Regions from separate parts of the Homo sapiens genome. Here region 1 is linked to region 2. Evidence: fine-mapped expression QTL. A gene starts in region 2. The other region holds a variant in brackets. All regions are shown on one strand. Distances are from middle to middle.

Region 1 (2,929 bases), 58 kb before region 2:
GAAAGTTTTCACCTCCATTCCATTTTTTAAAAATTCACGGTCCACACTGAAACTTGCTGGGTTTTAGCAGGAGACAAAGGTGTCACCCACGCTGTCCTCATCCTGCTCTCTCTGTCCCAGTGACGCTCCAGCATATGATCACTGCAGCCGGTCCCTGGCCCGTGCCGATTCTGCCACCTCCCAGCCACACACATTTGCAGACCCACAAGAAGAACTGTAGCCTTGATAATTTCAGTTCAGGCTGGAAAAATGCCATGCAATAATCTGGTTTGCTTTCAGTAAGTAGGCAACAAGTGAAAACTGTATAATTTTCATCACCTATTCTGCTGTTCTATCTAAAATGAGTGTACCTGTGGTTTGTGAACTGGGCCCTTGTTTGTGCCAGATCCTTCAAAGATGTTCCCTGTCAGGACACCTGTGGCCCTGCCCCTCCTCAGACACCTTCCCACTGGCATTCACGTTCCTTATATGCAGTGTTAGCCATCTTTGGCCTACGTGGACTTTTTTTGTAAATTACACCATTTCCAGACATTAAACTTTTTATATTATGAAATTTACCATGTAAAAAGAACTTCATATTTTTATTGAGATTGCTAAGGCACTTGGCCTTCCTCCTTTGTGATTTTCAGTGTCTATTAAAGCATGAGTTCCCTCAGTTTTAAGTGCTGTATCTGGATCACTTTCTCTACTCTTTCCACACTGTCTAGGTTTCTTTGCAGTACATGGAGTGGGCCGTGTGTCATTACTGAGCACGTATCTCTCTAGTTTTAACCCCACCTCTACACCATAGCCTCACATCCGCCAAGCAGAGAGCACGACCATGCATGCAGCAGAGCTGTCCCGCACGTCTCTGGTCTGGGGGCACTGTCGGTGGGGGGGTAATTTAGACGCTACTCATAGTTGGAGGGCCAGAAAGTTCGACAGTTGAATACGTATTTCGACAAACAGAAACAGAGTTCATCACCACCAGATCCCTATATCATCTAACAAAACTTCCAAGGTAGTATTTCAGAAAGAAGGAAGATAATTCTATATGCAAAAGTGTGAGAAGCATGAAGGAATAGTAAAGAATTGGGTAAATATGCATAAATGAA[CA/A]CAAATATTGCCTTTATAAAAAGAGTAATGTTTCATTCGGCTAACAAAAAATACTAGACAATAATATGTAAAACATGGGAGTTAAAGTGCTATAAGTTTAGGAACAAATTGTATATTATTTTTAGAGTAAGTTAAATATATGTAGTTACACACACACACATTGAAGTAGAGGGTTATACTTCCAAACTAGTCAGTGGAAGAGAAACAGATTCATTTTGTAAAACCCTGGTTGATGTAAAGGAATAGAAAAAGGAAGGAACAACAAAAACCATCTAAAAGGCAGGACAAATATAAGATGAAATTAATTGTACATTTTCAAATAACTAAAAGTATAATTGGATTGTTTGTAACACAAAGGATAAATGCTTGAGGGGATGGACACCCCATTCTCCATGATGTGATTATTACGAATTGCACGCCTGGATCAAAACATCTCACGTGCCCCATAAATATATACATCTACTATGTTCCCACAAAAATTAAAATTAAAAAATAAGACAAAAGAAAAATATCAGTAATCATTATAAATGTAAGTGAACTAAACAATTAAGCAGTAGATTAACAGATGATGGCAATAAGCCACATGCTCTTTAAAAGGCTATATGCTATTTGAAAAGAAAACCACCAAAGCATAAGGGCCCCCCCAAATGGCTGATAGTAAAAGGACTGGCAAACTAGATATTAAAGTAAGGGGCACTAATAAAAACAAAGATCCACTTCCTAATGATAAACTTGGCAAAAAGGCAAAATTCTAAATTTGTATGCAGCTAACTACATAGCCTCCAAATTCATGAAGAAAATTGGCAGAACTACAAGTTTGAAAAAACATCATCATGGGAAGTTTTAAGCCACTACTCTTTTGATAGATCAGCAGACGAAAAGTTAGAAAGCATGTGGTAGGTTTAAACAATTATGTGAACAGGCTTCTGAAATGCGGTTAAGGAGAACCCAGTCTCAGATAGTGAATCCACGGTCTTCACCTGCACACATGGAATATTTCATGAAAATAGACCATGCACAGGCCACATAGCAAGTCTCAGCAAATATCGAAGAATTACTACCACATAATCAGAGCACAATACAATTAAGTCAGGCAACAATAACAAGAGGATAACTAAAAAGTAGCCAATCACTTAGACATTTTAAAATGGACCACATAGCATATGACCCATGGAAGAACTCAAAATAGAAATGGGAAAATACAACATATCAAAACAGGTGGATGCCTCCAGATTTACCTTAGGAATATCTGAGTTTTTCTTTTATTAAGGACAGTGGTGTTTCTTATTTATTCTATACTCGCCTATAATTTGCAATTATCACTTTCACCCAATAAAATAAAATTACAATTATTTTCATTTCTGCTTACATGCTATTTTCAGAAAATGTATACATTATGTTATAAAGAAAATTAATAATTCCATAAAACTAGTGGAATACAACATATTAAAGAAAAATTTATAGCCCTAAATGTTTATATTCAAGGGTAATATTTATGTAACTGCAAGAGCCCCAAGCGACGAAGAAGGACACTGGTACTGTGAGACTGGAGTACTGAGGTATGTTAGGAAAAAACAAAAACTACTTACTGAGCTAGGTGACCAATTCAAGAAGTTAGAAAAAGAATAATATACCCAGAGAGAAAATAAAAGAGGGAATAAGAAAGGTCAGAAATAAAAGAAGACAATATAGAAGGTTAAGAAGGGCAAAGTTTGCCAAAAAGACAAATACACTGATTTCTGGGAATGGTAATCGTGTGTGTGCATGTGTGTGGGCGTGCGTGTGTGTGAGTCAGAGAGGGAAAGGGAAGGAAAATAGGCTATCTAAAGACGCA
Region 2 (2,500 bases):
CAGTACTTGGCATAAAATCCAATGTCCAATCAACAAAGCGGATTCTAAGCTTCTCAACTCTTGCAAGAAAGAGCGTGTATTTCCTTAAATCTCTGCCCTCACAATAACTAGCACTAGTCACACATAAGAGAAACTCGGTGACTCCAGGGACTGCCTTAGGAGAAAGTTTCTGGAAGTTCTGACATTCCAGAAACTTTCTCCTAAGGCAGTCCCTGGGAGTCACTGAGTCAGTCCATTTCCGTTATTTTTTTGGAGGCAGCCCTAACTCCACAGATGTATTCCACTATCAGATACACCAGATGTTTATACAAAAATGTTTTCGTGATATTTTAATCGTCTTAATAGCCTTTCAACAGGTTCTCATGGTTCTTAGAAGACAAATTCTTTACTATGGCCTAGTAATCCAGTTGGTCCCAGCTCATTTCCCACCCTCACTTAGGATGTTCTGGCCACATCTGCCCTCTAGCTGATCCTTGAACACCCTAGGCTTACTCCATCCTCGGGTCATATTTCCCTCCAACTGGAATGCCCCTCTCACATCCTAACAGGCTAGGCTCAAACACCGCCTCCTAAGACAGCCCTTGTCTTGAGTCCTCTGCTTCTCCCAGTACTCCACTGTATTCATAGCATAGCACTTCCCCACCACCCCAAATTCTCCCTGCTTTCTTTCCAAGTGAGTTGTCTCCTCTAGACTGTGAGCTTCTTGAGAACAGGGACTGTGTCTGCTTCTAGATGCATCCCCACTGCCTAGAACCGTGTCTGACACAGAGCAAGCCAGCGACCTCCGGGCTGCGGCTTTGAGGCCCACGGCGCTTTCGGTGTAACTGCGCGAACCAACTCCTGAACAGCCCGCTTTCCTGGGTCTCGAGGCCAAGGGCCTCTTTTCTCCCAGAGGGCCTCCGTCGGGAGTGCTGGCCGCTCATCCTGCCGAGTCACAGGTGAGGTTTAGGATTCTCCGCCGCGGTGGACCTCCACGAGACCGCGAAGCAGGTGAACGTCCTCCCGCGGAACCTGAGCTGCCAAGGGCTGGGGAGGGGAACAGAAGCTGGCGTCGGCTGCCTCCAGAACCTGTCAGGAGTCTTTTATGTGGACTATGGAGGTGAGGTGTCGGTCAAGGAGGTGGGCCCTGACTCGGAGCAGTGAGAGAGAGCAGAAAACCAGTCACCGCAAAACGGCTTCCAAAGAACCAACTGGAAAACTCACCGGAAAGCGTAGGCTGCCCAGACGCCCCGAGGGACCAAAGCTGAAGGGAGGAGCCCTCGTAAGCAGACAAGAGTGCGCGCGTCGAGCTTGCGCAGCCGCAGTAGAAGCCGCACGCTCTTCGGCAGGCTGCGCAACCGCAGTGGAGGCCTCGTGTGCCCGGGGTGGGGCACGAAACTGGGCGGAGCTAGGCCCCCTCGCGCGCTGACGCGACTGGTCGCGGCGGAAGGGTGTAAGCACGCAGGCGCGATGGTGGCTCGGGGGGGCAGGGAGGCGGGGCCGCGCAGGCGCTGTGAGAGGCGGTAGCGGCGGCGGCGGCGGTGGTATCGGCGGCAGCTGTGAGGGGGTTCCGGGAAGATGGTGCTGATCAAGGAATTGTGAGTGGGTCTGTGGGCGCGAGCGAGGCCGTGGGACGGCAGTGATGGGAGATTTGTTGATGGAGAAGTGGTAGGATATTCCTAAATCGGAGTCAGCCCTGTGTCAGCCCCTCCCTGCGGGCGCCCCCTCCCTCCCCCGGCCCCTTCGAAGCCCCTCAGCGAGTGCGCCCCTCGGCCCTCCAGGCATTGCCGTGGTAACACGCCCTCTCCCTTCCCCGGGGCGAAGGCGGCTGGGTCCCGGCCCGAGCGCATGGCTCGGGAAGGCGCGGCCGGGAGTTTCCGCTGGGACCCGCCTTCTCCCCAACCCCCCACCCCCAGGCTGGGTCTGGGCCCACCCCCAGGCCCGCCGGTGGGAAGGAGCCGCAGTCCGAGGGTGGGAGAGACACGTTGGTTCTGACTGTGATTTGTCGTCCGGGGTGGAGTCCCCTGGTAACCAGCGGGAGATGGGCTTGCCGGTTGAAGGCAGCCCTCGTGTCAGGACTCGCGGTGGGACGCTGGCGCCTTGAAGTTCGTGGTGGAGCCGGGATTCCGGAAAGCCTCCGCTCTCCTGGGCAGCTCCGCTGACTTGACGGGAGAGCCTTTTCTCTTTTTGGTTTCCGCATGTTTTAAGATGAGGTGACATCCCGGGCCCCACCTACTTTCTTAGAAGTTAACACGTGCTCTGTCAAATGGAGGGATTTCGAGGTGCATCCGACTGGCCAAGTGATTTTGTTGAAAAGTCACGGCTTTTCCTACTGGCAAGGACTGTAAACATTACGGAAATCTGCTTGCCTCTGAATGTTCGTCTGTCACAGCTGGTTCGTGTCGTCAGCATCCTTTGGGCAGCTAGGGAGGTCGAGTATGGCCCATTCGTTGGTTTTCAAATTCTTCATTTTAAATTCTTAGAAATATTTTTGGCTTAATTTAGCTTTTTTCAGACACCT

The links.
Region 1: its variant is fine-mapped to the expression of TTC28-AS1 in unexposed skin (GTEx, PIP 0.93).

What each region holds. Positions count from the first base shown.
Region 1 is chr22:27,975,747-27,978,675 of GRCh38, reverse strand. TTC28 (tetratricopeptide repeat domain 28) reads left to right here. Exons shown (of 23, transcript NM_001145418.2): 23 at 1-662. The region is part of intron 2 of TTC28-AS1 (TTC28 antisense RNA 1); the gene reads right to left. Among named protein-coding and RNA genes, the nearest start is that of MIR3199-1, 57 kb to the right of the region's middle. The variant CA/A (reference allele first, on the strand shown) is at 1,095.
Region 2 is chr22:27,918,249-27,920,748 of GRCh38, reverse strand. It overlaps TTC28-AS1 (TTC28 antisense RNA 1), which reads right to left and starts at 1,373. Exons shown (of 5, transcript NR_026963.1): 1 at 1,204-1,373. PITPNB (phosphatidylinositol transfer protein beta) reads left to right here and starts at 1,493. Exons shown (of 12, transcript NM_012399.5): 1 at 1,493-1,577. The coding sequence starts at 1,558. It overlaps MIR3199-1 (microRNA 3199-1), which reads left to right and starts at 137; the gene lies at 137-224. It overlaps MIR3199-2 (microRNA 3199-2), which reads right to left and starts at 223; the gene lies at 138-223. RefSeq lists enhancers at 973-1,152, 323-1,307, 1,308-2,293 and silencers at 1,463-1,532, 1,723-2,042.